Homo sapiens: one gene and its partners. The protein of the gene in region 3 interacts with the protein of the main gene of each other region in a biochemical or structural test. Each region holds a gene or a part of one and is shown on either strand. Other genes may lie near its edges.

What was found.
Region 1: the proteins of PALS2 (region 3) and CYTIP interact in a test that uses a peptide from one of them, tested with the Homo sapiens proteins (one large-scale study listed by IntAct).
Region 2: the proteins of PALS2 (region 3) and FAM110D interact in a test that uses a peptide from one of them, tested with the Homo sapiens proteins (one large-scale study listed by IntAct).

Annotation. Positions count from the first base shown.
Region 1 is NC_000002.12:157,417,091-157,420,232, reverse strand, and holds part of CYTIP (cytohesin-interacting protein), read left to right. Parts: intron 1-1,643; coding exon 1,644-1,710; intron 1,711-3,142. UniProt on the Homo sapiens protein: By its binding to cytohesin-1 (CYTH1), it modifies activation of ARFs by CYTH1 and its precise function may be to sequester CYTH1 in the cytoplasm.
Region 2 is NC_000001.11:26,157,450-26,161,206, reverse strand, and holds the start of FAM110D (protein FAM110D), read right to left. Parts: upstream 2,129-3,757; 5' UTR 2,081-2,128; intron 1-2,080.
Region 3 is NC_000007.14:24,688,452-24,691,729, reverse strand, and holds part of PALS2 (protein PALS2), read right to left. Parts: 3' UTR 1-3,278.

The DNA of each region.
Region 1 (3,142 bases), on a different chromosome or scaffold from region 3:
CCTCGGCCTCTTAAGAACTGGTGTGCACCACCATACCCAGCTAATTAGAAAAAAAAATTTGTAGAGATAAGGTCTCACTATGTTGCCCAGGCTTGTTTCAAACTCCTGGTCTCAAGCAATCCTCCCACTTCAACCTCCTAAAGTGCTGAGATTACAGGCGTAAGCCACTGCCCTCAGCCCTCAAAGCAGTATTAAAGCTAGTCTAGACTATATTATGGTACAGAAAGAACAAGAAGTTGATTGAGTCAAGCATTTGATTGATTTATTGCTCGATTTTATATTGGCAACCATAAGGGTTGCTGTTAATTGTTACTAGTATCAAAGTTTGGAAAATTCTGCCCAGTTATTGTTCAATCTTTGAAGACTGAGGAACAAGCCATGTTCCTCTTAAGCATTTAATGACGTTCTTGCAATTTTATTATTTTCTTTCCTTTAATCCTTCTCCAAATATACATTTTTTGCCTCTTCCTTTTTAGCCTTCATCTACTCCTTGCAGATTGCTTTGTGGCAAGGATTGCTTGTTTCAACTAGGCTGTCTTTCCTTTGGCCTAAGAGTCCACAGGCAAACCTGAGCTGTGCCCACTTGCTAGGCTTGCTATAGGGACCTGAATTTGCAAAGGAAGGGGAACAGTAGAGAATAAATAATGGGAGACAGTGAGCCTATGGCTATGTCTTTTCAGATGCCTTCTGCCTGGTTTGTTTTAGATTGCCATTGCCTCAGTCCCCTCTGTGGGATAGGCCAAGACTTGTGTGCTGTCTTGACCCATGTGGCAGCTACTTAATTCCCACTGTGGGTCTCAGCTCTCGTGTGCTGGGGCAGCCAAGAAGGGAGGCAGTTAAGAAGTTAGGGTGCTTAGCAGTGTTCTAAGTTTAGCCCGCTAAGGAAGCATTTCAGATAGTTCTGTTCTCCTTTTTTGTGTGGAAAATAAATAGCTGTCCAAGCCAGGCACGGTGCCTCACGCCTGTAATCCCTTTGGGAAGCTGAGGTAGGCAGATCACGAGGTCAGGAGTTCGAGATCAGCCTGGCCAGCGTGGTGAAACCCCGTCGCTACTAAAAAGACAGAAATTTGGCCGGGCATGGTGGGGCGTGCCTGTAATCCCAGCTACTTGGGAGGCTGAGGCAGAAGAATTGCTTGAACCCGGGAGGTGGAGGTCTTTGGGCTTGTATGTTGATGGTGATATTTGTAGAGCATTAACTAAGTTCTAGTCACTGTTCTAAAAATTTTACATCTATGCACTCATCTAATCCTCATAACATTTCTGGGGTTTAGGCTCTATTATTGTCTTCATCCTACAGATGTGGGAATCCTAGAGTATAAATCCTTGCCTAAACAGCAAGTACGTTTTCACAAACCCAAATAATCTTATTAAAATAATTGTTTAAATAAAAGTATATTTTATTGTTTTTCTTGTTTTTTAAAAGAAAGCTTGTTGGTACTACTAGATTATTTTTTGAGGGCATAGTATTCTCAATATCCTCCTTTTATACAGCAAAAATATTTTAAATGGATGAGATGGAATGGTAGTACTAGAAAGAAAGGTAAAAAATTTAATGACAAATCTCAACACCTAGAATTAAATTGCTAGCTTCACTGGGGTTTCCTAATAATAAAAACTTTTTTTTTTTTTTTTTAATCTCACAGCAAACTTTGAAACAAAAATGGGTGGAGTACAGATCTCTGCAGTTACAGGAACATCGTCTGCTTCATGGTAAATGCAATTTCCTGTTCAGAAACCACACTAACATTACTTCTTTCAGTATTTCTGCCTCAAAGTTGGTTTAAGATTATCATCATTATAAGAAAAATTTGTCTAGTGCTGGTCAAGGAAATGGGTCTGTGTTTCTTTGGCATGAGCTTTGGAATGGCTGTATTTGGAGGAGGGGTAAGGCAAGTCAGATCCACTACTGCGTATCATGACGCAGATGCACATGCACACAGATGCACATGCTCGAAAACAGGCACCTGGAGATTTTAGAAAATCATTGGGGAAGATTGCCTAACTTTCCTTCTACTTCAGTGAATGAATTACATTTCTGAAAACAATCACGGCTAAGGGGCTGTATAGTTTTTAGAAGCTATTAAAGCTGGAATGGTTGCACACTTATTGGGTAGAGCTCCTGTCTTTTGTTTAAATTGCATAAGTTGCATTTATGCAGAGAAATTCTTTTTCATGGCCCCCAAGACAAAGACATAAATGCGTAAGATGAATACAACAGTAAATGCATAGCTCTTGCCATTGAGTGCATTTTTAAGGGAAGGGTTGAGTTTAAAATGTGTTAATTCGCTATTTGTTGTATGATAGATGTAACCAAAGGAATGAACTTTTGTGTACAAATAATTCACTGAAACCACTACGTGGGTGTGAAATATAGCTTATCTCTTCTTTAAATAGCACCAAGCTTAAGTCTGTAACCTAGAATATCTGTTAAAAGTGATAATCAATTTGTTTACCAAAAAAGATAACAATTTAATCCTTAACTAGTCACTAATTTATGGCTTAGAGTTCTGGTATGAACTTCTGTTTTTTTTTTTTTAAATTGAAGTGTTTGAAACTTATGTACAAGTTACTTCTCTTTTTTATGTCTTCATTTAATATTTTTAAAAAATTCATAATAGTTCTTTTGGGTAGTGAAGTTTGTTAGAGAGGCAGAAATATTTAATACAAAAACTTCTTTATGGCCTTGTAAATTCAGCCACCTCCTTGCTTTCTTTAGACATGAGGGCTTTTTAGCCTCATTTCCACTTCTGGAGCATCCTGAATGGCCCAGTGAATATAAATTCTTGCTGTTCTATAGAAACAGCCTTGTATAGACAACATTGTTAGGTCAGGATCCTCATAAAGTCATTGTTGTACATATTTTTTGAGCAATTGAAGGAGTTCTGCTTTTTCTAGATGTATAGTAAACATCCAGGGCATGTGATTCTATAAGGCAATTGCTCTCCAATCAAAAGAAATTCATCACTTATTGCAAGATGAAATGAAGTAGGTTGTATTAGCAAAAAGGAAAGCATTATGACTAGTCACCATGGGGCTGGCTGTACTCAACCTTGCAAATCATCTGAAAGAACAGTTTCTTTTTATATTGTCAACCGAGGACAAAAGACAGCAGCAGTGGAGATAATCAGTACAAAATAAAACC
Region 2 (3,757 bases), on a different chromosome or scaffold from region 3:
GGGAGAGAGGAAGGTCAGGGGAAGGGTAGGAAATGCCCCTGGTCCTCTCCTGCCGGCATTCCTCAGTATAGGATCAGTCAGCCACCCTCTCCCATCCAGGTTAGCCGGTGCCACATCCAGGGAGCAGAGGCTCAGGCCATCCCCTTTCCCTGTCCTTCAGAGACATTGAGTGGGGTCTCTCTGGCCACTCAGAAACATATTCCCCTTTGAAGGTGCCCCAATCTGGCCACAGGGTCGTGCAAGCAGGCCTTAGCAAGCAGGACACTTGGAAAAGGAAACAGGGCTGGTCCCGGCCCAATTCCTGAAAGTGGCTTCAACCGGAAAAAATACCTCTTCCCAACCCAGCAGCTTTGAGCCCAAGACAAGAAGGCTCCCAGCCACAGGCTGGCTCCAGCAGGGCCCACCCTTCCCGCCCCCAAACACCGAGGTCGGGGATATAACCACAGGGTAGGAGCCTCCAGTAATTGCAGCCAACTGCCCTGCCCAGGCCCAGCAGGGCCATCGGGGCAGGAGAGGGAGGTGGTCCCCAGGCCCTATCAGCTACTGCCAGCTACTCTGCCCCTGCCAAGGGGATCGCAGAATGCCAAACTGTAAACATCACCTTGTTTAACCTTTGCATTTCCATTTCATGAAGAGGAAACTGGCTTGGAGAGGAGGGGGGCTTGCTCAGGTCCTATTGAGAGTTAGGAGCCAGGACTGGAACCCAGGTTTCTTTTTTTTTTTTCTTTAGACGGAGTCTTGCTTTGTCACCCAGGTTTCTTGCCTTGCAGTTCAGATTGGATCTCTCACTTGCCTATCAGAACTTCCCACTGAGGCCAGGCGCGATGGCTCATGCCTGTAATCCCAGCACTTTGGGAGGCCGAGGTGGGTGAATTACCTTAGGTGAGGAGTTCCAGACCAGCCTGGCCAACATGGCAAAACCCCATCTCTACTGAAAATACAAAAATTAGCCAGGCGGGGTGGCGCACACCTGTAATCCCAGCTACTTGGGAAGCTGAGGCAGGAGAATCGCTTGAAGCTGGGAGGCGGAGGTTGCAGTGAGCCGAGATCGCGCACCACTGCACTCCAGCCTGGGCAACAGAGCGAGACTCCGTCTCAAAAAAAAAAAAAGAAAAAAAAAAAGAACTCACTGATATTTTGCGTGTATTCCCGCTGCTATAAAACCAAGCAATTTCCGTTAGAAATGGGCCCCTTGCCTCACTAAAAAGTTCCTTCCACTAATTCTTCCTAATAACCTGCGCTCCCACTCCCAGAAATTTGCCCCCAGGGTCCTTGTCCCTTTTTTATCCTAAGACCTCATGACCCTTTTCCACCTCCCTTCTGCTGGGGCAAGGAGCGAGGAGGGGTTGTAAATCAAGAGCTGACAGTTCTCTTGGCAGTAACAGAATGGGCCACCCACATGGCCCTGCACACCCGACCCCACCCCTATCTTCCCCTACTCCCCCTGAGTCCTGGAGGCTGAGGGACCTTGGATCTGGGGACAACAAAGGAACAGAATTAGCCAGGGAAGTGGGGAAGGAGTCTGTGAGAGGCCTTGGGGCAGAGACCCTGCCAGGTCCAGCCCACCCCTGCACCCAGCATCTAGTGTGTAGTCAGTCTGCTCATAGGTAGTTGAGGCCTGGGAACCAAGGAGAGTCTGGCAGTGTCCCCCTCCCTGTCTCCCAGGGAGTCTCCTTGGCAGTGGGTCAGATTCCAAGGTCCCAGGAAGGCACTGCTTGTCTGACCCCATGGGTGCCCTCTGTCCTCTCCTCTTCTCCCCAGCCCTGAGCAGGGAGACTATAAAAAGTTCCTAATCACAAGGACCAAAATAGTCTGTCATCCACAGCCTCTTCCCTGCCTTCTGGGCTAGCCTGGAGGCCGGACCTCAGACATCCCGCCCTAGAAGCCTGGCAGGCAGCCTCGGGCCCTCCATTCCTTTGCCTGCCTTCTCCCAGTCCTGAAACTTGTGGTCTCAACTCTGCCCAAGGCTTCTGCTCTGGGCATGGGCCATCTTTTAGGCTCACTAGTTTGGCACCAGTCTCCCTGCCCTCAGGCCCCTGGGTTCCTTCTTACCCCAGCCCTGGGCTCAGGGTACACTCACCTCTGCATGGGAGGCCTAATTGCAGGGGTCCTTGGGCAGGTCCAGACTGAGGGCAGGAGTGGACAGCAAGGACTAGAAGTAACTTTGGTGGCAGCCAAACCTCACTCTCCACAGGAAAAGCAGAGAAAGCCTCCACCCCCCGCCCCCCAAATTAACCCTCGCCTTCCTGAGGCAGATCCTGGCCTCCATTAACTCTTTCCTGATCACAGTCCTGCGCTGTGGAGACCTGTGAACCAAGTCCAGCTCCTTTTATTTTACAGATGGTCAAACAGTCCCAGCCCGGTTAGGTGATTGGCTGTGGAAGCACTGTGAGCTTGGGCAGAGCCAGGACTCCAAACAAGGCCTCCTGATCCCCAGGCTTCCTCCAAAGGCCTGGGGTGGGGGCTCCGTATGTGGGATCAGCCCCCTCCCTGGGCTGTGGCAGATGCTCTGACAGTCTGAATGGGAAGGCAGAACAGGGTTCTAGTCAACTTGCTTTTTTCCCTCTGTAGCAGGCTGAGACCTGTCTTGGTCTGGGTGCTGGGTGGTGTCAAGCCTGCTTTCCCTGGGGGCGAGACCAGGAATCTGCAGCCTAAGGGTGGGGGCATTGGTGCTATAGATGTGCAGGTGAGCCTGTGGCGGCAAGTCTTGTCATGAAGGTGACCCTGGAGCCCACTGGAGCTGCCTCTGCCAAGGTCCTTTCATGGCAGATGGGATTGCCTGGGAAGACAGTGATGAGGGGCTGATTCCAGGGCCAAGCCCAGGTCCTTTGGCCCGCTTCCTTCTCTGCCCACACTTGGAGCCTCTTAGAGCTTCTTCCATCAGAGTTTCTTCTCTGACACCTTATGTCTCAAGGTGAAACCCTACCTCATAGGAGACACCTCCCCTCTCCCCAGCAGGCAAACTAAACTCTCCAGCCCAGACTAAGACCAGTGCTCAGGCCAAAGGTTCCTTTCCCCCCTTGGCTGGCCACCTTCCCCAAGTCCCTCCTCCTCCTTTCTAGCCCTCTTTCATGTTTGCAAAGCACATTCCCGTCTGTGCTCTCTGATCTCCTTTGACCGCCCCCAAACAAGGACCCTAGACAGGCGTCCAGCAGGAATGACCCCCCACTTAATGAGTAAGGAAACAGGAGCTGAGGGGGGAGAGAGATGCCCAAAGCCCAGCTCCAAATCCACATTTGGAACTGCATCCTCTGCCTGTCAAGTCAGTAGTGGGTCTGAAAACCCAAGGCCCATCTCCCGGTAAAAGGTTTTTATTACCTAAAGGGGGGATTTTGTTGGTGATAGTTCCATATTTTGTTGCTACAGCACTTTTCAAAATGCCATTAGCTGCTTTGTCATAATCCCCATGACAATCTTTGGGGGAGGTTTTATTATTTTTCACACTTACGGCTGAAGAGACTGAGGCTCAGAGAGGAGAAATGACTTATCCAAGCTCACCAAACTCTGTCACCCAGGCTGGAGTGCCGTGACGTGATCTTGGCTCACTGCAACCTCCGCCTCCTGGGTTCAAGCGATTATCCTGCCTCAGCCTCCCGAGTAGCTGGGATAACAGGCAAGTGCCTGGCTAATTTTGTGTTTTTAGTAGAGACAGGGTTTTACCATGTTGCTCAGGCTGATCTTGAACTTCTGACCTTGCGATCTGCCGGCCTCGGCCTCCCAAAGTGCTGGGATTACAGGTGTGAGCCACCTCTCCCGG
Region 3 (3,278 bases):
ATTTCCAAAGGGGTTTCCATCCAGAACCCTGCCCTTTTTCCCTAAGAAAATTAAATTTATTATAATAATGACTACTTTCTGAGTTTCTCATATATTTTTCAGAAAGATTATCAGCTTCAAGGTGGAACCAGAGCGTTTTAAAACAATCTAAAAAAAGTTTCAGAATGTCAAAGAAATGGGAGTAATTAAAAATTTTAGAATGCTAGTTATAATTACATGAATGAATACATTCAGTTTTATATTCATACATTTTGGGAGAATTTTACATATTATACACATAGCTGTATATATATATATATATATATATATATATATATATATATACACACACACACACACATACATAATATATGGCAACTCGAACATTTAAAAAATGAACTGCTATCTATGTACATAAAACTTCAGGATTGCCTTTTTCATGTTTAGTTAAGGTTCATTACTACAAAATTATTGGCTCTCTAGCCTGTGATTTCTGGATAATGGAGTACTGTTTCAGAAGTTACAAAAGTAAAATTTAAGTAGATTATTATTTTGAGCAATTTTCAAAATTGTTATCTTTAGTTTGCCAATTCAAAATAATTTTACCTAACTCTATGGCTATCCACCTTGAAAATCAACTCCAGTCACTGGGATCATGACACTTGTTATACATAAAAATAAGTACCATTTAATAATTTTTAAACCAAGGATCATTTTTTATTGTCATTGGGATATTATGGTCAAAGCAGTTAGTATCTGGACATAATCTATAATGTCACATGGTTTTATTGCTAACTTGGGTTATTATCTAAATTTGCCTTAATAATCTATTTGTTGCTTTAAAGGAAACTTCTTAAGAACTACTATAAATTTATTGGATTCTAGAATCTAGGATTTAGGCTACTAATGCTGTAGGCATACTGGGTTTCTCTTATAATTTCTATTTCAGAAAGCTATGTTCAGCAATTGTATAGTTAGAGTTAGCCAAAATAAACAAAGTCCTGATGTATTTGACATGTGATATTACCAAATATCACACAGAAATGGAGACTGCATAATAAAGGCATGGCTGTAATGAAAGTGAAAATTCTACTTTTTAGGGCCATCACATTTATTTCACTAAGCTATGGTTAAATGACTTATCCAGGCACATCACCTCTATGGGTATTTGTACATTTGAAAATGAAAAAATATATATATAGTCTTAGGTTGTGTACAGTCATGCCCTGAGTGCTGAAATGTGGACACTGACCTATCCACAAGGAGCCCTCAGGCACATTAATACGTTGGCACATCATGTTTCCCAAAAGCACATGCATGTGTGTGTCTATTTCAACTCTTAACAATTGCTCAACACCACTCTAAACCATTTTCGCTTCCATAAAGCTAATTATCGCAGATCTTCCCAAAAGAGAAGTTCACATTTCCTTGATCACAGCTATACTCTCATTACCTAGGAAGAACCCTGGGACCTCTGGGGCTGTTTGCCCCCGCAGAGCACTGCTCATTCCTGCAGATTCATTTGGGACTTGGGTTTCAAGTTCAATGATTCTTCATTGAGATACAATGAACTTATCTAACTGTATTCTTGTTAGTACGGGCATCTAGACTGAAATGAACTAAACTGCATCATTTCATTTTATATTAGGAGAAATCTAATGTGCATTAATTAAGTAGTCAATCATGAATACCATTTATAATAGAAATAATTCCTTTAAGTATATTTTCTAAGTAATACATTTTATATCACATAAGGCTAATATACATGATGTAAAAGTCATCTATTGTACCAAGATGATTGAAATATTTTGCAGATAAACTTCTTGTGCTGCTATAATTATCCCAAAGCTGTTTAAAGAGGCTCCATGCTGCAGCATGAAAGTACATTAGAGAATACAGCACATTTCCTGAGTGAAGAACTGAAATTTCTCTTAAAATTTCAAGTGTGTGTTGAAACATTGTCATAGGGCATCACCTTGATACTGTGCTTTAATTCATGTTGCTTTGAGAAGCCAAGAATTTGGTGTAAACACATGTAGTTTGAAAGTTTCCACTGTTATTAAAATAGTATAATCCATTTTGTCACCAATTCCCTGTCCTAGGACAAGAAACGTGAATTTGTGTTCTGGCCATGAAATCTAGAATCAAAAAAAGAAAAAAAAAAAAAAAAAGAAAAACCTATAGATTTCCAACTTTAACAATATGACAACTTGGGTGTTTTGTTTTATTGTGAAAAAGATTTTAAACAATGTGTCAATACTGCCTATTGTCATATATTTTCTTTTCCTTCAAAGTCCTCCCAGCTGGCGTTCCAAATGACAACTTTGGTGAGGGAAAAAACAAATTCAGCAGCCAGGTGTCTGGCACCTAACACCAGACAAAGATGACCATCAATATTTAAACACCTAATCCTTTAAAGTGTGAATAATGTTTACATGAAAAGCTAGCAACAATACAGAATGTGGTTACCTTAATTTAATAATGAGCTGCATCTCTGAGTATGTTTTAGGAAGAATTTCTATTATCCAAGAATCCTAAAGGAAGATATTAACTGAGGTGAATGTGGGAATTTGTATAAGTCAATGCTTCTAAAGGAGAACTTCTTTCGGTAATCATTAAACAAAAAGTACACTTCTTGGCTAGGTGCAGTGGCTCATGCTTGTAATCTCAGCACTTTGGGAGGCCAAGGTGGGTGGATCACTTGAGGTCAGGAGCTCGAGACCACCCTGGCCAACATGGTGAAACCCCATCTGTACTAAAAATACAAAAATTAGCCGGACATGGTGGCACCCAACTGTAATCTCAATTACTTGGGAGGCTGAGGCACGAGAGTCGCATGAACCCAGGAGGCAGAGGTTGCAGCGGGCTGAGATCGCGCCACTGTACTCCAGCATGGGTGACAGAGAGAGACTCCATCTCAAAACAAACAAACAAAAAAACAAAGTACATTTTTTAACAGATATGTAAAAAATATACAAAACATTTTATATATATTATATAATACATAATATACATATTATATAATGTATATATTTTGTGTGTATGTATACAAAATAGCTGACAATTATTTCCCAATTTTTTAAGTTGTTCAATGGGTTTGGTTCTCAACACAACAGACAAAACAGGTACCCTAAGGATCACATCACATTTCTAAAAGCACAAAAACCTCCAACTGCAAACTTAGAGGCATCTCTAAACATCACTAAAATTTGCAGAGGCATGATACATTTGCTGACCATGTTCTAATAAAACCATTGTTTAAAGTAGTAGGTTCCTTTTGTCAGTCAAAATTTTACATG